Homo sapiens: one gene and its partners. The protein of the gene in region 4 purifies or fractionates together with the protein of the main gene of each other region. This does not show direct contact. Each region holds a gene or a part of one and is shown on either strand. Other genes may lie near its edges. The genes, in order: MRPL13, IVD, BCKDHA, LYRM2, OXSM, ALDH1L1 and ECH1.

The links.
Region 1: the proteins of LYRM2 (region 4) and MRPL13 purify together in Homo sapiens (affinity purification with mass spectrometry, with the first as the bait; one large-scale study listed by BioGRID). This does not show direct contact.
Region 2: the proteins of LYRM2 (region 4) and IVD purify together in Homo sapiens (affinity purification with mass spectrometry; one large-scale study listed by BioGRID and IntAct). This does not show direct contact.
Region 3: the proteins of LYRM2 (region 4) and BCKDHA purify together in Homo sapiens (co-immunoprecipitation; one large-scale study listed by IntAct). This does not show direct contact.
Region 5: the proteins of LYRM2 (region 4) and OXSM purify together in Homo sapiens (affinity purification with mass spectrometry; 2 studies listed by BioGRID and IntAct, with this or other methods). This does not show direct contact.
Region 6: the proteins of LYRM2 (region 4) and ALDH1L1 purify together in Homo sapiens (co-immunoprecipitation; one large-scale study listed by IntAct). This does not show direct contact.
Region 7: the proteins of LYRM2 (region 4) and ECH1 purify together in Homo sapiens (affinity purification with mass spectrometry, with the first as the bait; one large-scale study listed by BioGRID). This does not show direct contact.

What each region holds. Positions count from the first base shown.
Region 1 is NC_000008.11:120,407,151-120,410,650, forward strand, and holds part of MRPL13 (large ribosomal subunit protein uL13m), read right to left. Parts: intron 1-3,500.
Region 2 is NC_000015.10:40,418,802-40,421,808, reverse strand, and holds the end of IVD (isovaleryl-CoA dehydrogenase, mitochondrial isoform 1 precursor), read right to left. Parts: 3' UTR 2,630-3,007; coding exon of another isoform or gene 2,607-2,629; 3' UTR 501-2,606; downstream 1-500.
Region 3 is NC_000019.10:41,411,318-41,414,817, reverse strand, and holds part of BCKDHA (2-oxoisovalerate dehydrogenase subunit alpha, mitochondrial isoform 1 precursor), read right to left. Parts: intron 770-3,500; coding exon 661-769; intron 1-660. UniProt on the Homo sapiens protein: Together with BCKDHB forms the heterotetrameric E1 subunit of the mitochondrial branched-chain alpha-ketoacid dehydrogenase (BCKD) complex.
Region 4 is NC_000006.12:89,635,948-89,640,022, reverse strand, and holds the start of LYRM2 (LYR motif-containing protein 2), read left to right. Parts: upstream 1-1,275; 5' UTR 1,276-1,306; coding exon 1,307-1,351; intron 1,352-1,386; exon of another isoform or gene 1,387-1,491; intron 1,492-1,537; exon of another isoform or gene 1,538-1,751; intron 1,752-2,140; coding exon 2,141-2,281; exon of another isoform or gene 2,282-2,298; intron 2,299-2,669; coding exon 2,670-2,750; 3' UTR 2,751-4,075. UniProt on the Homo sapiens protein: Involved in efficient integration of the N-module into mitochondrial respiratory chain complex I.
Region 5 is NC_000003.12:25,788,932-25,792,889, reverse strand, and holds the start of OXSM (3-oxoacyl-[acyl-carrier-protein] synthase, mitochondrial isoform 1 precursor), read right to left. Parts: upstream 2,801-3,958; 5' UTR 2,743-2,800; exon of another isoform or gene 2,074-2,742; intron 1,901-2,073; 5' UTR 1,870-1,900; coding exon 893-1,869; intron 1-892. UniProt on the Homo sapiens protein: May play a role in the biosynthesis of lipoic acid as well as longer chain fatty acids required for optimal mitochondrial function.
Region 6 is NC_000003.12:126,174,087-126,177,586, forward strand, and holds part of ALDH1L1 (cytosolic 10-formyltetrahydrofolate dehydrogenase), read right to left. Parts: intron 1-3,500. UniProt on the Homo sapiens protein: Cytosolic 10-formyltetrahydrofolate dehydrogenase that catalyzes the NADP(+)-dependent conversion of 10-formyltetrahydrofolate to tetrahydrofolate and carbon dioxide.
Region 7 is NC_000019.10:38,821,795-38,825,294, forward strand, and holds part of ECH1 (delta(3,5)-Delta(2,4)-dienoyl-CoA isomerase, mitochondrial precursor), read right to left. Parts: intron 1,604-3,500; exon of another isoform or gene 1,046-1,603; intron 1-1,045. UniProt on the Homo sapiens protein: Isomerization of 3-trans,5-cis-dienoyl-CoA to 2-trans,4-trans-dienoyl-CoA.

The DNA of each region.
Region 1 (3,500 bases), on a different chromosome or scaffold from region 4:
CAAAAAAGCAGATTCAAATTCAGAATTCAGAAATGACAGAAGTCAAAACATTTATATTATCTTGAAAATGGAGTAATTTCTCACCTCTTAACATTAGGAAAAAACTTTTCGGAGATTTTAGTTTGTATTATAAAATGGTAGGAAAAATTTACTTGGTTGTGAATGAAACAAAACATCAAGTTATGAAGCACATGGTTTATGCTACATTAAGATAAGTGACACTTAACATTATTGGTCCTACTTCCCAGCACTTTGGGAGGCCGAGGTGGGCAGATCATGAGGTCAAGAGATCGAGACCATCCTGGCCAACATGGTGAAACCCAGTCTCTACAAAAAATACAAAAAATTAGCTGGGCGTGGTGGCGGGCTCCTGTAATCCCAGCTACTTGGGAGGATGAGGCAGGAGAATTGCTTGAACCCGGGAGGCAGAGGTTGCAGTGAGCCGAGATCGCGCCATTTCACCACCCCAGCCTGGGCAAAAAGAGCAAAACTCCATCTAAAACAAAACAAAACAAAACAAAACAAAACAAAACAAAACAAAACAAAAAATACATTATTGGTCCTACTAAGAATAATTTATTTTTCAAGTAAAAAAATTCCCTATTTCAGCTGTAAGTCCAGGAAATTGAGTGTAGCTTAAGTGTAATAAATCTCAAAAAAATTTTTTTCTTCAATAGGTTTTATGTCTTTTCACTCTTACATAATATTTCTTAGTATAATGCTTATTCTATGAAACATTTAAAAGACTAAAATAATATTTGGATGGTGAACTAATCTTAAAAGCGATAAAAGGTCAGTTTGAGTTTTAAGTCACTTCCATTGAATGAATGAAATTATTTAGAATAAACCATTTCAGGAAATCTGGTGACATCACATATTCTTTAAAGATGCTAGCTATACTGAGAGGTAAAGTAATGGTGCCTTAATACTAATTTTCCTAGGCACTGTAGCACCATCCTGATCCGAAAAAGCTCAACATACATTTAAATAAAATGTTTTTTTAAATCCTTTCTTGATTATTCTTTTTTGTTTCTTCCCTTTCAGATCCAGACCTACAGATCAACATACTTTTAAATAAACTAAACCTGTAAGATTGTTGAAAATTTTTGCCAAATGATTTTTTCAATTAAAATGAACAGAAATTGCCATTACATTCAACTGCACTTTTTTAGTCAAAATCTGTATCAGCTAGGACTTATAAATGATTTGGGTTTTGTTGTTTAAATAGAGACTACTTTTTTATTTTACTAGCCAGTCCTGATCTATTCACATCCAAAAGAACAGTACAGCTTAGAATGCCTAATTTGAGCAAAACCCAGGACTGGAAAGACTGAAGTCTATCATTGAAGTCAATGCTGAACTGGTTGAAATAGGTAGGAAAGTTGGAAAGTAACCTTAGTCCACAAGTCCAGCTAGTAACTGCTGACTGTGAAGAGCAGCAAATTAAGTTAAATTGTGTGGAGAAAATGCCACATGACTAGACTAGAAGAAAATTATGGAAAATCTTAAAGCTGTCCAGATCCCAGCAACTTATGGATTAGAAAAGGTAAAAATCCTTCTACATTGTCTTTAAGTCTCTGATCTGAAGCATGTTTTATAAAGGCATAGGTAAAAATAATCTTTTTCTGAGTATTAAGTAAATCTGAAAATGGGTAGTTTTTAGGATTAACAGCTTTCATATCAGAGAATATGCACTAAGCTTAAATCCGTGCTCTCTTCTAGAGCTATAGACTGAAGAGGATGCTCACCAATGCAGTGCTAATGTTCCCAGCATCTGGAATCCAGCTTTTCTTTTACAGAGCTGAATGGATCACATATTGAACTCCCTAATCCTCATCCTACTTTCGAAGAGACAGTTCTGCATCAGTAATGGTTGTCCTCATACTTCCTTGTCTTCATCCTTACCATCCATCTCTCCTTTGCAGGCACATTTCTAATAGCACACTCTAGAGTACTGAAACACCAGGAACACAGGTTTCTGTTATAAAAACCTGTGTTCAAGCATGTATTGATGCTGAAGCTTTCCATGGTTAGCTTCTCTACAAAGGTGAGAGTTTTGCTTAAAACAAGCATTTCTTACTGAATTAACATGTAAGGAAAAATAATGCAAAGCAATTCAAGTTGAATTTTTTCACATACGTAGTTTTCCTTAGGAAAAGCTCTCCTGCATCATTTTGCAAAACTTGAAAATAAAGTTTAAAATGATCCAAGTTTTATTTGTAGACTACATTTTGAAACATTTCCCTTACAATGAGCATGATTAATTTCCATGATTATTGGGGTTGTGAAATGTGTTGGCAAAACTGCAATAATCATGTAACAATTGATAGTATTAAAATAAATTGACCATTTTAAAGCTACAATCTTAAGCAACAGAATTGTGAAGAAAAGATAGTGCTATTTTTTTCCTTTAAAGAAAAAAGAAAAAAAATCTAAGTATAAACCCCACAGTCACCATTTGCACATTGCAAATACATATCTGCTTTGTACAGTCAAGAAATATAAAATAAACTTCCTAACATATTTTCACAAAATTTATGTATCCATGATTTATGTAAAATATACTAATACACCAAGAATATCCACTAACTTAAGAAGTGAGATGAATGGGCAATAGTACCCATAGTATATATAAAATGGCTTTTAGTTTTAAAAAAGTATAGTTTTGTCATAAATATCAATTTCATTCCTTATCTCCTACCATAGCTTAAAAATGACAATAACTAATGACTGAACAACAACTAGCAAAAGAAAACCTAATGTATGCTGAAACTAGGCCTGAAAGAATATAATCTTTGAAGATGATTTAAAATAATTTAAATAAAATCCCAACAATGCTAGCTTTTAATTAAGATTAAAGCAATTTTGTTAATCATCTACTGGGTTCAAAGCTCTTTGATAATTGTTTCTGCTGCTCAGAAGCTTTTAGTCTCTAATAGAAAAGTTAATAAACTTATATTTAACCAAATATTAATAATAGTTCAAATTATAAGATGTACATTCTAATATTATGAACATATTTTAAGTTTTATTACTAGGGCAGCAAACACCAGAGCAAGCTATTTTTGTGGCTATATACTTGTGGCGCAATGCAGGTACATTTGTTTCAGTCAAGTCTCTGCAGATTCACCATCAGATTTATCTTAAACAAATTCCAGTTACTACATTCCAAAGGAAAATTATATTCTTGGCTTAGCTATGTTGGGTAGAACAAAAGCATATCTTAAGCAAGGTCCTCTCCAAAAGGAGAAAAAAATTTTTTTCTAATAAAGGCAATCCTTTAATAATAAAAACCTCATGTTCCATGAATTGAACTGCATGGCATATCAAATATTTTAATTCTAATTCTAAAGTATATAATATTTAATAGAACTTTATAAAATGGCATAGTCCAATAACTAAAATAGCATAGTCCAATAATGTAGACACTAGCCATATGAAGGTAGCGTAATTTTATTCACTAACACGTAATTTTATTTACTAAAATTACATCAAATAAA
Region 2 (3,007 bases), on a different chromosome or scaffold from region 4:
CCTGCACTCGGTTGTGCAAAGATCAAGGATCTCAGACTTGAGAGGGTTACATGGGCAAGGGATTGTTATCACTAGATTATATGGATTTAGAATTAGGACTTAGGCTCCTGGGGAAGCCTGCTTTAGGACTCAGATGGTGGTTGTAGAAGATTGCCTTGCAGACTCACCCTTGGGGATGTGATTAGGTCTGGGGCAGGATCCAGGAACCTGCATTTATTCTAGGTTGCCAAATTTTGATAAGGGGTGTGCTCAGACCACGCTTAAAAAACATCCCAAGGTTCTGTTGCCCTCCCACAGGGCAGGCAGCATCAACAGCAGCGAGCTGCCCTGATAGTGTGACCTGCCTAAAATTGGAGTGGAGTAAGAGCCAGCCGCAGGAAGGAGCAGTGCTGGCAGCTGGTGCTGCAGATTTGCCCAATGCATGTAGGCAACCAAACACGCCCACAAGAACCAAAGTAGACGTGCCCCTTGTTCTTCCATTTACCACTCAGGCTGCATGGTTCATTTTGTTTTTTTTGCTTTTAATTTTAAAACATTTATTTTGCTTCACATATAGAACCAGGAAAGAAATCACCTCCCCAAGTCGACAGGGCTTAGACAGACTGGATGAAGCGCCCCATTTTGCCACATTGTCTCCAGGCTGGTCTCTCCAGCCACACATTAAGCCAGCAAGATGGCCCTTTTAGTCACATTCATCTCCAACATAGCAGGGAGCAAGACAAGGAAGTGAAAGGGACTGCCTATGAGCCCAGGATCTTGCCCTCAGGATGGGACGGAACTGGGGTTGGTGAGGAGCCAACCCCACCTGTCTCAAGCCTCAGGCTAGGAACAGCACTTGGCTGCAGGCCAGGACCAAGAGCCAGGATAGGTGCTGCTGGGCTGAGAACCAAGAAAACCAGTTCCCTCTTTTTGGAACTCGGAAGGGGTGGAACAACCCAGACCCATTCCCTTCTCAGATCACACTCTATCCAGACTGCTGTACAGTGCGGCCCAAAGCTGGAATTCTCAGAACACCCCCATTTTTGCCATGAGCAGATCTGGATTCTAGTTCGTTTTGACCTTGAGAAAGTCAAATTGTGTTGATCTTTTTAAAAACAAAGGGGCGGTTTTCAGAAATCTATAAGCTTCCTTCTGGCTGTAAGAACTTAGCACTCTGGGCTCCCTGCTTCCTTTAAAACTCACTGGGAGATCTGGGAAAGGGAGGCTGAGACCTCTCTCCTAAGGGCTGATTTTACCTTCCTGTCCCTCATGAAAGAACGGGCTGGAGGACAGGAATAGGACCTGGGCCAGCCACTCTCCAAGGACACAAGCTGGATCCAGACAGGAAGCAGCGGCAAGTAGATTGCTTCTCCCCAGATAGGTTTGTTTCACAATATATTTAATACAAAATGGCAGCAGCCACTGTGCAGTTATAACAAAATTAGCCATAGGGTATCTGGAGAAATGTACACAGGCAGCCTCAGCTGGAGTCATGCGAGCCAACTCCGGCCTGCTCGGGTAGGGCCTGTGCCTGCTGCCCAGTCAGCTGTGGGTGGTCACACGGCCAGGACTGGATGGTGCCCGTGGCAGGGCGGTGCACAAGGGCTCAGAGGTGCTGTACAGGAGGAGCCAGTCTTCCAACAGTACACAAAAGCACGCTGTCCTCTGCTCTGCCCCCCCTGCGGACTCAGCAGCATGTGTGTTCATTTATTTTATTATTATTTTTTGAGACAGAGTCTCACTCTGTTGCCCAGGCTGGAGTGCAATGGCGCGATCTCAGCTCCTGCAACCTCTGCCTCCTGCGTTCAAGCGATTCTCCTGCCTCAGTCTTCTGTGTAACTGGGATTACAGGCGCGTGCCACCAGGCCTGGCTAATTTTTGTATTTTTAGTAGAGACGAGGTTTCACCATGTTGGTCGTCAGGCTGGTCTCGAACTCCTGACCTTGTGATCTGCCCGCCTCGGCCTCCCAAAGTGCTGGGATTACAGACGTTGAGCCACCATGCCTGGCCTATTATTTTTTGAGACAGAGTCTCGCTCTGTCGTCCAAGCTGGAGTGCAGTGGTGTGATCTTGGCTCACTGCAAACTCTGCCTCCCGGGTTCAAGCAATTCTCTGCCTCAGCCTCCTGAGTAGCTGGGATTACAGGAGCCTGCCACCACACCTGGCTAATTTTTGTATTTTTAGTAGAGACGAGGTTTTACCATCTTGGCCAGGCTGGTCTTGAACTCCTGACCTCGTGATCCACCTGCCTCGGCCTCCCAAAGTGTTGGGATTACAGGCATGAGTCACTGTGCCCAGCCTATTTTTCTTTCCTTTTTTGAGACAGAGTCTCACTCTATGGCCCAGGCTGGACTGCAGCGGTGTCATATTGGCTCATTGCAACCTCCACCTCCCGGGTTCAAGTGATTCTCCTGCCTCAGCCTCCTGAGTAGCTGGGATTACAGACGTGCACCACCACCCCTGGCTAATTTTTGTATTTTTAGTAGAGATGGGGTTTCACCACGTTGGACAGGCTGGTCTTGAACTCCTGACTGCAAGTGATCCACCTGCCTTGGCCTCCCAAAGTGCTGGGATTACAGGCACACACCACCTTGCCTGGCCAAGCAAGCATATGTGTTCATAAGCTGCTAGGAGCTGATACCTCTAGAAACTGGAAGAAACAAGGGCCAGGGTTTTTTTGTTTTGTTTTGTTTTTTGAAGAGTTTTGCTCTTGTCGCCCAGGCTGGAGTGCAATGGCACAAGCTCGGCTCACTGCAACGTCCGCCTCCTGGGTTCAAGTAATTCTCCTGCCTCAGCCTCCTGAAGTAGCTGGGATTACAGGTGCCCACCACCATGCCCAACTAATTTTTTTCTATTTTTAGTTGAGGCGAGGTTTCCACATGTTGGCCAGGCTGGTCTTGAACTCCTGACCTCAGGTGATCCACCCATCTCAGCCTCCTGAAGTGCTGGGATTACAAGCATGAGCCACCACGCCTGGCTAGGCTAGGTTTATTATTTTTTTCCCCCAGAAAAGAGACTGAAAGTTGAA
Region 3 (3,500 bases), on a different chromosome or scaffold from region 4:
AGTCCCCATGCAGGGCCCCACACCAACAAGCTCCCTGGAAGACCCCACTCACTGCTCCCTGGGCTCACTCCTTCGCTCCCAGGCACTCATTCCTGCTCAATGATTTTCTTCATTCCTGGTCTTTGACCCTTCCTTCCTTTCACTCATCTGGGCTTGCCGGGCCCCTCTAATCTTGCACCGCACTCAGGTCTGTCAAGGTTCTTCCACCTGCTCCTGCTCCCCGAAGGATACAGCACCTGAGGAGGGGCCAGGGGATCACTGCACCAGGCAGACAGGGTCTCCTGCACAGGCCACACCCACAGCGAACGTTGACTTCACTGCATCCTCCCAGCGACCCTTGGATGCAGGTACCGTCATAATCCCTCTTCTGGAGATTAGAAAACTGAGGCTCAGAGAAGGGAAGTGACTTGCCCAAAACCTGACAACTGGTAACAAAGGGTTAAGAGCACAGACCCTGAGCCACTACACTTTCTGGCCTTCAGAGTGGGAAGACTGCCCCCTCCAGAGTCCTAACCCTGGCTTGTCTCTTTCTTGCTTGGAAAGCTCTTCTTCCAGCTCCTTAGACCTTCCTGGCACTATGCTGCTCCTGGAAGAACACTCAGAAAAACTAAAGTGTACACTTCAATGGGGACCACAGGGCCAAACCACGGACAGACGTACCTGCCTCCCGGTACTGGCCAAACACCAGGTCCGTGTTGTCCAGGGCGGCGGCACTCCCCACGTGCGTGCCCTCCTCACCATAGTTGGTCATGTAGAAGGAGATCCGGCCCTGGGGGTGTAGAGGGGACCGGGGTCCCACAATTGGTTATGCTGGGCAATGACAGAGAGCCATCCAAATCCTGCCCAGCTTCCAACACCTCCATGAATTCACAGTCCTCCTGAAGGCCAGTCCTGGGCCAGGCCATGCTGGGGTTCCTGCCTTTAAGAAGACGCTGCCAGACTGCTTAGAACTGCCAGAGGGATCGAGTTGCTGTGATAGAAGCCCAAAGGAAGCACCTGTTCCACCACGGAAGGGCATCGGTGAGGACCAGTGCGCAAAGATGGGGTGGGTGGAGGGTTCCAGGCAGAGGGAATGATAGACCATGAGGCCAGAAGGGCTGGGACATACAGTGGTAGGGGTGGGGAAAGATGAGGAGGGAGAGGAGATGGCACCCAGATAACAAAGGGAACGATACATTGATTTTACTCTGAGAATAGTGGTAACCTGCCGACAGTCTTCTCAAGGGAGCAATGTGGTCAGACCTGTGTTTTAGAATTGCTCTCAGGCTGCAGTGAGGTAAATGGATGGAGTCATCAAGGCTGATTGCAGCAAGCCAGGAGAGAGGGGGCAGAGGCCCAGCTTGGTAGCAGAGGGAGGCGGGAGAGGAGCAGGTGGATGTGTCTGAGGAAGCTGAGTCGGCTGTGCTAGGGGGCAGCAGACCCTGTCAGCTGGCCACACCAGTGCCCAGTTCCCTTCTCCCAAATCCCCTAACCTGAGCCTCAAAAAGACACGCACTCAGGTCCCTGGCCTCCCTTGCAGCCAGAGGTGGCCATGGGACACAGTTTTAGCCAGATATTTTGGTGGAAGTCTGCTTTTGCTTTCTGGATAGAAGAGACCACTGCTGCTGGTGCCAGCCCTACCCACTCCCTACTTCTTCCTGCCTTGCAGACAGCCATGAAGCTTGGACATGCAGCAGCCATGCTGTGAACACGAGGCCACAAGCAGAGCACGAAGGTCAACTCACCAACAACAGTGAAGCAGAGAAAGGATGGGGCTGGGTCTCAGAGTGTGCTGCTGAGCAGCTGAGCACTTCCTAAAGATGTATCTACAGACAGGCTAGGCACGGTGGCTCACACCTGTAATCCCGGTACTTTGGGAGGCCAAGGCAGGCGGATCACTTGAGGTCAGGAGTTCCAGACTAGCCTGGCCAATGTGGTGAAACCCCATCTCTACTAAAAATACAAAAATTAGCCGAGTGTGGTGGTGGGCGCCTGTAATCCCAGCTACTTGGGGGGCTAAGGCAGGAGAATCACTTGAACCTGGGAGGCGGAGGTTGCAGTGAGCCGAGATTGCGCCACTGCACTCCAGCCTGGGCGACAGAGGTGGACTCCGTCTCTAAATAAATAAATAAAAATAACATAAAAGAAAAGAAGTAGCTACAGCTGGGTGCAGTGGCTCACACCTATAATCCTACCATTTTGGGAGGCCAAGGCAGGCAGATCACCTGAGGTAGGGAGTTCGAGACCAGACTGACCAACATGGAGAAACCCCATCTCTACTAAAAATACAAAATTAGCCAGGTGTGGTGGCGCATGCCTGTAATCCCAGCTACTCGGGAGGCTGAGGCAGGAGAATCGCTTGAACCAGGGAGGCGGTGAGCCAAGATCGTGCCATTGCACTCCAGCCTGGGCAACAAGAGCAAAACTCCATCTCAAAAGTAAAAAAAAAAAAAAAAAAGAAATATCTACAGACAGAGGGAATGAGAGGGGAGAAAGGGATAGCAAGGGGGAGGGAGGAGACAGGGATGAGATGAGGTTTCTGGTGTGGGCAAGCAGGTGGATGGTGGTGCTCTTCACTGAGAAACGGACTAGGTGAGGCAAAGGAGCACGCCTGGGAGGAAGATGTCGAGGTCAAGTTCAGACAGGATTAGTTTGCTGTGGGACATCCAGGGCGAGAAGCCAAGCAGGGCTCTGACAAGCAGTCTGGCTGGGGCTCTGGGCAGCCCTGGCATACGGATGGACATGAGATCACACAGGGCCATGTGTAAAGCGGAACAAAGGCAGCCTGGCCAGCACCCTGAGGGACACCCCGGGGCCAGAGCTCCTCGCGGCTCGGCGGTGCCCTCCTCCATGTGTTCCCAGGCCTGGCTTTCCCGTTGCTGTGGGGGAAACTGATGAATGTGTGCTTTCTTCTAAGTGGGGAGCCAATTAAAAGTTAATGCACATTCCAGTGCCAAGTGAGTGGGCGGTGCTGAGTACTGAGGGCCTGGCAGGACTGTCCAGGTTAGCGTGGGTAAGAGCCTGCAACCAGCCCCCTGAGGATCAGGACTCGGGGCTACTGGCAGAGGCTCCTGGTTGCCTTCCCAGTATACTATTCCCCTCCTCTGTTAACAGAGGTCTCAATCTCCCGCAGGCAGCAACTGCCGGGACTAAAGTATTATTAATACATTTCTCAGTCTCCCCTGCAGCTAGGAGTGGCCCAGGAAATGTATGCAGATGTCACTAGGTGGGACTACCCAGAAAGCTCTATAAAGGTGGGGGTGTGGGATAGCTGGGATGTGCCATGTCTGGCCTTCCGCCTTCCCTCTACTTCCTGCCTGGAAGACCCCCTGGATCTAGCTGTGCCCCAAAACAGGACCCTCTGGATGTATGGTCATTGGAGTCAATAACTTCCCTCTTTGTTGACACTGGCTTGACTGGATCCTTGTCCCTGATACTAGGATTTATCAGGGGATCACAGCCCATTTCACATGGGCCTAGGGCGGTCCCCTGGAGCACTCCAGGAAGCACTGGGGACCCAC
Region 4 (4,075 bases):
TCATCATAAACGGACCCAAGTCATGAACAATTCACAAAAACAGTATAACTAAAAATGGCGAGGGGTATTTAACTTCACTCCTTTTAAAAAGTTAGCAATTAACTATTACAGCTAATGTATTAGACAAAATTTGGCATATATTATTGATAATATGATCATGCAGTTAGCATCATTCATACAATGCCTGGTAAAGTTCAAAAGAGCTAATGATTAGAGTTCTTACATGTGCCAGGACCTGTTCTCAGTACATTAGAGATACACAACTGAGGTAGATGCTATATTTCACTTTACAGGGGAGGTAATAGGCCAGGAGAGGGGAAATAGCCAGAACACAGCTAGGAATAGGGAGCCCCAGGATGCTAACAGGCGAGGCAAGCAAGTCCCCAGTAAACTAGTAATTGAACATTTTTCGTTCTATTTTAATTCGATACAACACCACTTGGAAAATTAATATGGCAAAGATTCGCTAACTCCACTTCTAGTGATTTAACCCAAAGGCATGTGTATTGTGGGAAAGATAAAACAACTATAAGGAAATAAAAGCAAAAGCCTGAGGCTTAGGGATGTTAGGCTCCTCGTTATTAGTGATGAAAAGTGCTTAAGACTGAAGTGGGTGAGCCATTCAAAGCTTTGTTTCAAATGATCATGAAGGCCACCGCTCCCGGAAAACCTTTGCGCTACAAAAGAACAGGACAAAAACGAGAAAGAGAAAAAACCAACACAAACTGTAAAAGAAATTAACACTTTCAATTTTAGTATTTTCAACTATACACATTTTTAAAGGCTCGAAAGAACATTTAAATACGTTTTCACCTCTTTCCCCCAAAAAAACCTTAACTTTTTTTTCGAGACAGGGTCTCGCTCTGTCGCCCAGGATGGAGTGCAGTGGTGCGATCTCGGATCACTGCAACCTTCACTTCTCGGGTTCAAGCGATTCTCCTGCCTCAGCATCCCGAGGAGCTGGGATTACAGGCACCTTACAGGCCTCCCAGAGTGCTTGGGACTGCAGGTGAGAGCCACCGCGCCCGGCCTCCTTCACTTTCATTTGAACTCTCTTTACCAGGAACTGTGTTAAGTGCCCTACCTTTCTTCTTTATCAAAACGACCCTATGGTGCACTGTTATCCTATTTTACCGACGAGAAAACTTCGGCCAGCGCAGCAGCTAGGGCTCAGTCCCGAAGCCTCGCGCTCTCAGTCCGAGAGCAACCCGCGGGCCGTCTCCTAGGAAACCGGGCTCGCCACACCCCTTGGTCGAACCCCACTTCCGCTCCTGCGCGCTGAGGCTCCGGCGGACCTCTGGTGGACATGGCTGCTTCCCGCTTACCCCCAGCGACGCTAACGTTAAAGCAGGTACCGGCGGTTCTCTGCCTTCCAAAGCAGCTTACCTGGGTCTGAGCTGGATTCTCCATCTGTCCCTATCCCCAACGGGGCGGGTTCCGGGGTCCTGATGCGGCGTGCGCGCCCTCTGAGATTGGCCCGATGCCTGCGGGGCGGTGCTTCGCTCCGCGGGGCCTGACGGGAGGCACTGGCTGCTTCCTTGGTTTGGTGCGATCGCGTGAGACAGCGTCAGGCGCTTGATTTCCCTGAGTCCCGGTGCCTCAGCTGCCCAGTGCCCACGGTAAAAGTCTATTGCACTGAGCTGTGGCAAACAGCAAATGAGATTACCAAAGATTTGAACAACTGTTAATTTAGAAAAAGTGCTGTCGTTGTAATAACAACTTCTAGGAGACCGGCAGCCCTTTTCAGCCCGGTAGGCAGCTCCTGATTTTTTAATGGTTCTTAGGTTTGACAGAGCAGTAAGCAAAAAGATCAGATGAACCTCGTGATGCTTTCTTTAAAACATCTTTTTGAGACAGGGCCTCACTCTCGCCCAGGCTGAGTGCAGTAGCGCAATGAAGGCTTACCTCAGCTTAGACCTCCTGGGCTCAAGTGATCCTCCCATCTTGGCCTCCCAAAGTGCTGGGATTACAGGCCTGAGCCACTGCATCTGGCCAAAAAAAGAAAAAAAAAAGTTTTTCTTTGCCTTTTTCAAAATTGACCAACGAGAAGTACTCTGGTTACAGCTTGGTTTGCTGAAGTAGAACTTTCCAGGCTGGCGATTGTGCAGTAGTAATTGCTATTTACTCCTCCCTTTTACAGTTCGTAAGAAGGCAACAAGTTCTTCTCCTCTACAGAAGGATTTTGCAAACAATTCGGCAAGTTCCAAATGATTCTGATCGCAAATACCTGAAAGATTGGGCAAGAGAAGAATTCAGAAGAAACAAAAGTGCCACCGAAGAGGTGAGAACAAAATCATGGTGAGGACAGATCCTAACCCTTTTTATTGATCAGTGAATTTTTTTTTTTAAGTTTAGCAGACATCTTGGAATATAGTGCCACTGAGCTGGTATATCTTGATCATTGCTTGTAATGTTACCGATTTTAAATTATTATTTTAAAATTTAGTATTTTAAAATATGTAGATAAAAGAGTATCTACACTCTTCAGCATCATCACTTGACTTTTATGTTGTACATTTTATATGTATGTATGTGGAACTCTTTTAGCTTTTCTAAAAGGCAGCAGTTCCAATAGGTAGTATTGGTTCTTGATTTTAACAGATAAAATGGTATAGCTATACCTTGTTTAACCAGGTAAAACTATAACCAGATTTCACTTTATTCTACAGGATACAATCCGGATGATGATTACTCAAGGCAATATGCAGCTCAAGGAGTTAGAAAAAACACTTGCTTTAGCAAAATCTTAACTATAGCATTATTCTGAAGGATTTTCAAAGTCTCCATGTGTTTTGTTGCATTTAGGATTAACAATGGACAACACAAAGCCCAGTCTTACTATTTATATGTACAGTATTTGGTGATAGAGAGCAAAGGAAAAACACATCAGAACAGTTGCCTTAACACTGAAAAACATACCCTGCATTTTGAAAATGTTTATGGATGTCTCAGCAGTTCTTAAAAGAAGAAAAAAACCACTAACAAATGGCCAGTAGATGCTGGACACAATCATTAGGGAAGTGTAAATCAAAACTACTATGAGGTCGGGTGTAGTGGCTCATGCTTGTAATCCCAGTACTTTAGGAGGCTGTGGTAGGTGGATCACTTGAGGTCAGGAGTTCAAGACCAGCCTGGCCAGCATGGTGAAACCTCATCTCTACTAAAAATACAAAAATTAGCTTGGTGTGGTGGTGCATTGCCTGTAGTCCCAGCTACTTGGGAGGCTGAGGCAGGAGAATCACTTGAACCCAGGAAGTGGAGGTTGCAGTGAGCTGAGGTCGTGCCACTGCACTTCAGCCTGGGTGACAGAGTGAGACAGTCTCTAAAAAAAAAAAAAAAAAACAACCCTGAGATTCACATTCACTAGAATGGCTGTAATTAAAAAGAGAAATAATAATAAGTCTTGGTGAAGATGTACAGAAATTACAGAACCCTCATACATTGCTGGTGGGAATGTAAAATGGTGTAGCCACTTCAGAAAACAGACGGTCAGTTCCTCAAAAGATGAAACAGCTGCTGTATGAGTTAGCACTTCTACCCCATGCCCATAGCCATTATTTGGCACTAAAAAGAAACGAAGGACTTATATATACTAAACATGGATAAACCTTGAAAACGTTAAGTGAAAGAAGCCGGTCACAAAAGATCACATGATGATTCCATTCATACGAAATGTCCAGAATAGGCAGAAAGATTAGTGGTTGCCTAGGCTGGCTGTAGATGGAATGGAGTAACTGCTAATGGGTGTAGGGTTCCTTTTCAGGGTGATGAAAATATCCTACAGTTAGCTTGTGGTGTAGGCTGCACAACTCTTGAATATATTCAAATCCACTGAACTGTACATTTTAAATGTAAGGTATGAATTGTATCTCAATAAAGCTGTTATTAAAAAACTCTTGAGGTGTAGGACTGAAAGTATACTGACACCAGGAGATACCCTGGAACTTTCTCGAAAAATCCTGCATTATCCCTGAGGGTTGTTCAGGTACGTTCTTCAGATGTGTCATAGTTTGATAGAGAACTCATCAAAAAGATCACCACTGGGAATCTAGATCTTTGTTGAAAAGGGAAGAGA
Region 5 (3,958 bases), on a different chromosome or scaffold from region 4:
TCTGGCTAATTTAACTGAGTAAAACATAATATGATTTAAGAAAGCTAAACTATTAGCTATCTATTAACACATTATCAGGGACTTTTTATTTTTATTTTTTTGCATTTTAAATGCACTAATCTATAACAGTTAACTTAAATGTAGTCCTTAAACCAGCAGTATCACCATCACCTGTTAGAACTACAGAATCTCTCAGCCTGGGAAATAAAGTGAAACCCCATCTCTACAAACAAATTCAAAAAAAAGAAAACTGGTCTCAGTGGCGCATTCCTGTAGTCCCAGCTACTCAGGAAGCTGAGGTGAGAGGATTGCTTGAGCCCAGGAGTTAGAGACTGCAGTGAGATAAGACCAGCATGGGCAATACAGAGAGACCCTGTCTCTAAAAAAACAAAACAAAACAGAATCTCAAGCACCACCCTAGACCTACAGAATCAGAATTAGCATTTTAAATAAGATCCCTAGGTGATTATAGTTTGAGAAGTGCTGATTTGAAAAGAACAGAATCCTGTTGAAATGGAGCAAAACCAGACACATCTAGAAGGGTTGACTTTACTTTCCAAGTCTGATGAAGGGTCAAAGAGGAGGACTTTGTGAGGGAGCACACTGATGCTTAAGCACAAATGCAGGCGTGAAAAGTTGGCAAAGACACACATGGTCTTTTCCACAACTCCATTGGTTTTTAACTCAAATGCAATTTTTGTAAGTATGTTCAAATGCTTTGAAATACTTCAAATGTCTTAAGCAAAGAACTAAACAATCTTGTTTAGTCTAAAAAAGAAAAACAACAGAGATACTGTACACCAAGGCCAGACACTACAACTTCCCTAATTTGGGATTCCCAATAAAGTGTCTTATTTGAAGAAATATTTCGAAGGAAATAACCCATCTTTACCTTAAGGCACCTTCTCCTTCAGGATCAGGGGCAGTTATGTGACCAGCATCACCTGAGAGTCCATAGCCCAAAACTTCTGCATAGATCCGGGCTCTTCTTTGAACAGCATGTTCATATTCTTCCAGCACCAGCACAGCTGCACCTTCTCCCATTACAAAACCATCTCTCTTTGGATGAAATGGTCGACATGCCAACTTGGGATCTGAGTTTGTGCTCAGAGCCCGGGCTCTGGAAAACCCAGCAAGAGATAAAGGGCTAATACAAGAATCTGTACCTCCAGCCACCATCACATCAGCATCACCATGGGCTATAAATCTAAATGAGTCTCCCACAGCATGAGCTCCTGTGGTACAGGCTGTGGATACTGCATGATTTGGGCCCTTGAGTTTATATCGAATGCTGACCTGGCCTGCTGCCATATTGACCAGAATCTTAGGGACAAAAAATGGGCTAACTTTATTGTAACCTTTTGTCTGAAAATTCAAAGCAGTTTCAGAAACAACTTCAAGAGGAATCATTCCCATGCCAATTGCAACACCAGTAGCCACTTGATCAGCTTCTGACTGAGGATGCCAGCCAGAATCCTTCATGGCTAATTCTGCAGCCCCAATGGCCATGATGGTGGGAGAAGACATGGACTTGATATCTGATTTGGACACAAAGTTTTGTTCATTGAACTGACCTTCATCACTACCTCTTGGCACATAAGCAGCAACACTGCAAGGGATACTCTTATACTCTTCACCAACCAGTGAAACAATTCCACTCTCTCCTCCGATAAGACGATCCCAAACCAGGTGAGTTCCAACACCAAGAGGAGTCACTAAGCCAATGCCTGTAATGACAACTCGCCTATGCAATCTGGATATTGGCACAGTTCCGAAAAACTTCCTTTTACTTCTTAACTGTTGGCATAATCTTGAACATAGAAGACGAGTGCTTGTAATTTTCAGGAAATTTTGCAGGCAGTTGGACATGATTAAGATTCAGATGATCAGAAACACATTCCTGTAAAAGACCACAACACACCTAGGAGGTATTCTTTTAAATAGCTTAAGGGCCTAAGGAAAAACATCCAAGGTGTTCCTTTGGGTGCTTGATATGAGCTGCTAATGAACACAGGGAAAATGTTACATACTTTCAATTTATACCTTAACATCAAACTATCTGTTTAAACTTACCTTCTTTTTTAGACCTTAAGTGCCGTCAGACATTTGAAGACAAATAAATGAATTGATGATTCATTCGAGTCACCAAAACAGTAATTCAATGAAAAATATAAAGGCACCTCCAGCCTGATTTGAGCTGCAGGAAGCATCCTTTGTCAGGATTACTGATAACTTCTTCTAAATAGCATTTCTGGTGTCAGTGGCACAGAAAACACATTTCAGGGCATATTCTTTTAAGTAAGTAAGTGGGCTTTATCAATCTTCAGTACTTAAGGATAACCAGCCTTTTCAAAACGCTACCCAGGGCCAAGAGCCCTAGACTGAGCGTCTGGATACATGGGTTGGCAATACACTCTGTGACCAAGCTTGCGATGGGGGAAGGGGACAAGTCTTTCCACTCCTCTAAACTTCTCCAATTGAATCATTGGTGGAAGGAGGGGTTACGACTAGTGGATCACTTCAAGGGTACTACGAAGGCCAGGGGCGGGAGTAAAAGAGTGTAGCCATTCCCTGTATCGCCTCTCAGGCACCACCACACATGTACACAGCCCGAAGAAGCATGGCGAGAGAAAAAGAAATCAGGCCCCAGGTCCTCGGACTCCCCTCTCGAAATTCAACCCCGACTTGATTTGAATGTAAAGGAGGAAAGGAGGGGCGAAGGAGGAGGGTAGCCAGCGATACCTGTAACGGGGCTACCCCGGACACTTCTCCACAGTCGGGGGCGATGACGCTCTCGAGCGCACGCGCACACGCACGTACGCTCATGCGCGCTCGCACGTACGCTCATGCGCTTTCCCACGCACGCGTCCCGTTCGACTCTCTTTCCGCCGGTTGACTTTAAGCCGCGTCACCTTGGCTGAGGTCAGACCGTGGGAGGCGGCTGGGTAGCTGTTTGCGTGAGCAGAGACGCCCCTCTCGGAACCTCAGTGACTCGCCGATAATCGAGGACCTGCCAATAACGCGATGAGGTAGCATTTTCACCCATCAAAAAGGCATTTTTCTTTGGCAGTGATAATGCCCAAATATTCCCTTTTGTCGGAGAAGGGACACCATCGTATTCTACTGGAATTGTAAGAAAGAATTAAGGAAATTCTCTGCAGTTTCAAAGTTATTGCTATAGCTCGCAACGTTATTAGTAATTGTGAGTAAAGTGGAATTAACCAAAATGGCCAACATCAGGAAATTTGTTGTGTATCTTGTGGTACATCCAAATGCCATGCAGCCGTTTAAAATAATTCTGCAGGTGAATATTTATTAATGAGATGTTGCGACTATTTGTTAGGAGACATAGTTACAAAACAGTATATATCCGTTTTTTCAAAAATAATTCTTTAAAGGTCTGCAAGATGTATACTGATTGTGATCTTTCCCTCCTTATTTTTGCTTAGCTTTATTTAATAAAGCTTTTCTACAATAAACAAATGTTTTTGTAATAAAGTTTTTACTTTTTAAAAGTTGTCACCAGGCTGTTCTGCCTATGGAGTAGTCATTCTTTGTTCCTTTACTTTCCTAATAAACTTCCTTTCACTTAAAAAAAAATTATCACCAGATTTGAGACAGTGCTCAAAAATTGTCTCCATTGTCACAATGGAGACATTTGTTTCTAAGTGTGAAAAATTCATTAACTGTTTGCTTAGAGCTGACTGCAAACCGATAAAGGGAAAATATAACATGAAAATGTAAAAAAGCAAGAAGTCGACAAGATGGTATTCATCGAACATCTGTTTTTCACATGCTATCCCAGGCGTGAGTTTTGTCCTTGCTCTTCTTTAGAAAAATGGTTGAGCATAGAATCTTCATCTGGACCTTCTAGTCATATTTATGGTTTTTTCTGGGCAATGCCTCTTGAAGCCATTGTTTCCAAGTAGAGTGCTCTGCATTCTTTCCTACCCCTACA
Region 6 (3,500 bases), on a different chromosome or scaffold from region 4:
GGAGTGCAGTGGCACGATCTCGGCTCACTGCAACCTCCGCCTCCCGGGTTCAAGCAATTCCCCTGCCTCAGCCGCCCGAGTAGCTAGGATTACAGGCATGCACCACCACGTCCGGCTAATTTTGTATTTTTAGTAGAGCCTCCATGTTGGTCAGGCTGGTCTCGCACTCCTGACCTCAGGTGATCTGCCCACCTCGGCCTCCCAAAGTGCTGGTATTACAGGCGTAAGCCACCGTGCCTGGCCAGTACCCACTAACTGATAGATCCAGCAGGCTGGAAATCAGTAAGGACATAGTTGAACAGCACCATCAATTAAGTGTATCTAATTGGCATTTAGAGAATACTTCACCCAACAACAACAGAATACACATTCTTCTCAAGTTCACATGGAATATTCATCAAGACAGACCACATTCTGTGCCATAAAACATACAACAACAAATATCAATGACTTCTATGATGGAGATTACTGAGATCACAACAGAATCACTAGAAATCAATAACAGAAAGATATCTGAAAAACATTAAAAAAATGGAAACTAAATGACACACTTCTAAACAACATGTAAACAAATCAAAGAATAACTCTCAAGAAAAAATTTAAAATATTTCAAACTAAATTAAAATGAAAATATAACATCAAAATTTATGGGATGCTGCTAAAGTAGTGTTTAGAGGGAAATTTAGAGCACTGAATGCATATATTATTAAAGAAGAAAGAGCTAAAAGCAAGTTTCCAAATTAGGAAACTAGAAAAAGAAGAGCAAATTAAATCCAAAATAAACAGAAGAAAGGAAATAATAAAAATTACAGCAGAACTTGTGAAATTGAAAACATGCTGTCAATAGAGAAAATCAACAAAACCTAAAGCTGGTTCCTTGAAAAGATGAATAAAACTGAGACACCTCTAGCCAGGTTAACTAAGAAGAAAAAGAGAGAAGACTCAAATTACTAATATCAAAAATGAAAGAAGGGCCATCAATACTGATCCTACGGTCATTAAAAGGATAATAAAATACTAGTATGAACAACTCTATATCAACAAATTTGGTAAGTTAAATGAAATGAAACAATCCCTTGAAAGTACAACGTTCCAAAACTCACACAAAGAGAAATAGATAATCTGAATAGGCCTATACTGATTAAAGAACTGGAGCCAGTAGCCTTCCAAAATAGAAAGCACTAGGGTTAATGAATATGACTAAACATTTAAGAAAGAAATTATGCCAATTCTCTATGATCTCTTTCAAAAAATAGAAGTAGAGGAAATTCTCTAATTTTCTTGGGTCAGAATTACCCTGGTACCAAAACCAGAAACATTACAAGAAAGGAAACTAACAGATCAATATTTCTCATAAACATAGATGTTAAAATCCTCAAAAAAATCAGCAATTGAATCCAACAATGTTTAAAAAGAATTATACATAACCACCACATGGGATTTATTCTAGGTTAAACATTTGAAAATCAATTAATGTAATCCATCGCATGAATAGGCTAAGGAAGAATTATATGATCACATCAATAGATCCAGAAAATGCATTTGACAAGAATCTAACATTCATTTATGATAAGAGCTTTCAGCAAGCTAGTAATAAATGGGAACTTAACTTGATAAAGAAGATCTATGAAAAACCTACAGCTAACATCATACTTAATGGAGAGAAACTAGAAGCTTTTCCCCTAAGATCAGAAATAAGGCAAGGATGTTCCCTTTCACCCTTCCTAGTCAACATTATACTGGAAGTGCTGGCTAATGTAATTAGAAAAGAAAAGAAAATGAAAAGTCTACAGATTGGGAAGGAAGAAATAAACTGTTCTTGTTCTCAAAAAACATAATTGGCTATGTGGAAAATGCCAACAAAGCAACAGAAAACTGGAAATAATAAGTTATTCTGCCAAAGTTGCTGGATGTAAAGTCATGGTTAATATACAAAAATTGATTACTTTCTTATATACTAGCAATAAACAATTGAAATTTGAGATTAAAAACACAAAACCATTTACATTAGCACCAAAAAGTGAATTATTTATACATAAACCTAAAATAGGTCAAAATCTATGTGAGAATAACCATAACTGATGAAAACATAAAAATATGTATAAATAAATGAAGAGATAGTACATGTTCATGGGTAGGGAAACTCTATACTGTCCAGATGTCAGTTCTTTCCGACTTTATCTATAGATTCAATGCAATCCCAATCAAAACCCCAGCAGTTATTTGTGGATATCAACAAACTGATTCTCAAGTTTATTTGGAGAGACAAAAGACCTGGGATAGTCAACACAATATTGAAGGAGAACGAAGTTAGAGGACCGATACTGCCTGTCCCCAAGACTTTACTATAAAGCTACAGTAATCAAGACAGTACGGTATTGGCAAAAGAATAGTCAGATAGATCAATTGAACAGAATAGAGAGCCCAGAAGTAAACTCACATCAATACAGTCAACTGAACTTTGACAAAGAGACAAAGGCAAGACAATGGAGAAAATCTGCATTGCACAAAAATCACACAAATATCTGTACACTGATGTTTACAGCATCTTTATTTGTAACTGCCAAAACTTGGATTTGACTTTTTAGATACAACAACAACAGCACAATTCATGGAGGAAAAAAAATGGTACATTAGACCTTATTAAAATTTAAAACTTCTGCTCTGCAAAAGACACTGTTAAGAGAATGAAAAGACAAGCCATGGTTGGGGAGAGAAGACATATCTGGTAAAGCACTGTTATCCAAAATATACAAAGAACTATTAAAACTCAACAGTAAAACAAACAACCCAATTTTAAAATGGGCCAAGTAAATTAACCGACATTCACAAAAGAAGATATACAGATGGCAGAGAAGCATTTAAAAAGATGCTCAACACTGTAAGTCATTACAGATTGCAAATTAAAATATAACAATGAGATACTACTATATGCGTATTAGAAGAGTTAAATTAAGAGCACTGACAACAAATGCTGATGAGGCTGTGGAGCAACAGGAACTCTTATTTATTACTGGTAGAAATGAAAAATTATGCCACCACTATGGAAAAAGGTTTGGTAGTTTTTTATAACACGAAACATACTTTTACCATGTGATCCATCAATCGCTCTTGATATTTACTCAAAGGAGAAGAAAACTAATGTCCACACAAAAACCTGCACACAAATGTTGATAGCAGCTTTATTCACTGCTAAAACTTGGAAGCAACCAAGATATCCTGTAGTATGTGAATGGAGAAATAAACTGTGGTACCTCCACATCCATACAACAGAATATTAGTCAATGATAAAAAGAAATGGGTTACCAAGTCACAGAAAGACATGGAGGATGCTTAAATGCATTTTGCTAAGCGAAAGAAGCCAGTCTGGAAAGGCTATATACCATATGATTCATACATACTATATGACATTCTGGAAAAGGCAAAACTACAAAGGCAGTAACCAGTGGTTGCCAGGGATAGGTAGGGGGGTTGGGGGGTGGATGGGTAGAGCACAGGAG
Region 7 (3,500 bases), on a different chromosome or scaffold from region 4:
CTGCACAGCCCGAGCCTCCCCGAGGAGCGCCACCCCCTGCTCGGCGGCGCCTGGTCCCATCAACTGCCCAAGGGCTGAGGAGTGCTCCGCCTGCGGCCCTGGTGCAGGATCCACTGGGTGAAGCCAGCTGAGCTCCTGAGTCTAGTGGGGATTTGGAGAACATTTATGTCTAGCTGAGGGACTGTAAATGCACCAATCAGCACTCTGTATCTAGCTAATCTGGTGGGGACTTGGAGAACGTTTATGTCTAGCTAAGGGATTGTAAATACACCAATCAGCACTCTGTTTCTAGCTCAAGGTTTGTAAATGCACCAATCAGCACCCTGTGTCTAGCTCAAGGTTTGTAAATGCACCAATCAATGCTCTGTGTCTAGCTCATCTGGTGGGGACTTGGAGAAACTTTATGTCTAGCTAAGGGATTGTAAACAACCAATCAGCACTCTGTGTCTAGCTCAAGGTTTGTAAATGCACCAATCAGCACCCTGTGTCTAGCTCAAGGTTTGTAAATGCACCAATCAGCACTCTGTATCTAGCTAATCTGGTGGGGACTTGGAGACTCTTTATGTCTAGCTAAGGGATTGTAAACAACCAATCAGCACTCTGTGTCTAGCTCAAGGTTTGTAAATGCACCAATCAGCACCCTATGTCTAGCTCAAGGTTTGTAAATGCACCAATCAGCACTCTGTATCTAGCTAATCTGGTGGGGACTTGGAGAATCTTTATGTCTAGCTAAGGGATTGTAAATACACCAATCAGCACTGTGTGTCTAGCTCAAGGTTTGTAAATACACCAATCAGCACCCTGTGTCTAGCTCAAGGTTTGTAAATGCACCAATCAGTGCTCTGTGTCTAGCTAATCTAGTGGGGACTTGGAGAAGTTTTGTGTCTAGCTCAGGGATTGTAAACGCACCAGTCAGCACCCTGTCAAAATGGACCAATCAGCTCTCTGTAAAACAGACCAATCAGCTCTCTGTAAAACGGACCAACCAGCAGGATGTGGGTGGGGACAGATAAGGGAATAAAAGCAGGCTGTCCGAGCCAGCAGTGGCAACCCACTCACGTCCCCTTCCATGCTATGGAAGCTCTGTTCTTTTGCTCTTTGCAATAAATCTTGCTGCTGCTCACTCTTTGGGTCCACACTGCCTTTATGAGCCATAACACTCACCGCGAAGGTCTGCAACTTCTCTCCAGAGGCCAGCAAGACCACGAACCCACTGGGAGGAATGAACAACTCCGGACGGGAGGAACGAACCACTCTGGACGCACCGCCTTAAGAGCTATAACACTCACTGCGAAGGTCTGCAGCTTCATTCCTGAAGCCAGCGAGACCACGAACCCACCAGAAGGAAGAAACTCTGAACACACCCAAACATCAGAAGGAACAAACTCCGAACACATCAGAAGGAACAAACTGCGGACATGCCGCCTTTAAGAACTGTAACACTCACCACGAGATTCTGCGGCTTCATTCTTGAAGTCAGTGAGACCAAGAACCCACCAATTCCGGATACATTTTGGTGACCCAGATGGGACTATTACCTATCGCCAAGCGGTGAGACCACTGCCTATCGCTGAGCGGTGAGACTATCACCTATCGCCAAGCAGTGAGTACCACTGGACCCCTTTCACTTGCTATTCTGTCCTATTTTTCCTTAGAATTTGGGGGCTAAATACCAGGCACCTGTCTGCCAGTTAAAAGTGACTAGCATGGCCGCTGGACTAAAGACATGGGTGTCAGGCTTTCTGGGAAAGGGCTCTCTAACAACTCCCGACTCTTTGGAGTTGGGAGCGTTGGTTTGCCTAGAACCAGCTTCTGCTTTTCCTGTACTTCTGGGCTGAGCCGAGGGTCGACAGAGAGGAAAGCCATGCAGCTCTAGGGTCCCGACAAGACAACAAGTTCGTTGACCCTGCAGCCATGAGCGGAACACTCAAAGGCATGTCGCCCAAGCGAGACTCGCCCATCTATCCTATCTATCCTGACTCTTGCCCCCGGGTCCTAATGCCTGCCAGACAAACTTCCTCTCACCTCTCTTCTCCGAGTTTAGTCCTGCTTCTAAAATTTGCTGTCTCTGGTGCTTTTCTAGTTTCTCCTATAAGAACGACTTCTAGAACTCTGTTACATTCTTTAGGCACCCAGGCTCACCAATCAGAAAGACATAATTTTTGCCCAAAGCCCTGTCATAGTGGCGACTACCTGGAATTTTACGATCCCTCCTCAGACTAACAGGCCTAACAAAGGTATTCCTGAAGCTAGGATATGGGGAGCCTCAGAAATTGTAGCTTTCCTATTCATATAAGTGAGGACAAAAGGTGTCACTCTTCCAACCCTGGAGATCCCTTCCCTCCCTCAGGGTATGGCCCTCCACTTCATTTTTGGGGCATAACATCTTTATAGGACAGGGGTAAAGTCCCAATACTAACAGGAGAATGCTTAGAACTCTAACAGGTTTTCAAGAATGCGTCGGTAAGGGCCACTAAATCCGACCTTCCTTGGTCCTCCATGTGGTCTGAGAGGAAAACTAGTGTTTCTGCTGCTGCGTTGATGAGCACAACTATTCCGATCAGCAGGGTACAGGGACTGTTGCAGTTTCTTGGGCAGGGGGAGAAACAAAACAAACCAAAACCGCGGGTGGTTTTGTCTTTCAGATGGGAAACATTCAGCCATCAACAGGCTCACCCTTGAAATGCATCCTAAGCCGTTGGGACCAATTTGACCCATAAACCCTGAAAAAGAGGAGGCTCATTTTTTTTCTGCACTATGGCCTGGCCCCAGTATTCTCTCTCTGATGGGGAAAAATGGCCACCTGAGGGAAGTACAAATTACAATACTATCCTGCAGCTTGACCTTTTCTGTAAGAGGGAAGGCAAATGGAGTGAAATACCTTATGTCCAAGCTTTCTTTTCATGGAGGGAGAATACACAACTATGCAAAGCTTACAATTTACATCCCACAGGAGGACCTCTCAGCTTACCACCATATCCTAGCCTCCCTATAGCTCCCATTCCTATTAATGATAATCTTCCTCTAATCTCCCCTGCCCAGAAGGAAATATGCAAAGAAATCTCCAAAGGACCACAAAACCCTCCTGGCTATTGGTTATGTCCCCTTCAAGCTGTAGGGGGAGGGGAATTTGGTCCCACCCGGGTACATGTCCCCTTCTCCATCTCTGATTTAAAGCAGATCAAGGCAGACCTGGGGAAGTTTTCAGATGATCCTGATAGGTACATACATGCCCTACAGGGTCTAGGGCAAACTTTCGACCTCGCTTGGAGAGATGTCATGCTACTGTTAGATCAAACCCTGGCCTTTAATGAAAAGAATGCAGCTTTAGCTGCAGCCTGAGAGTTTGGAGATACCTGGAATCTTAATCAAGTAAATGATAGAATGACACCTGAAGAAAGGGACAAATTCCCTATCGGTCAGCAAGCCATCCCCAGTATGGATCCCCACTGGGACCTTGACTTAGATCATGGGGACTGGAGTCGTAAACATCTGTTGAC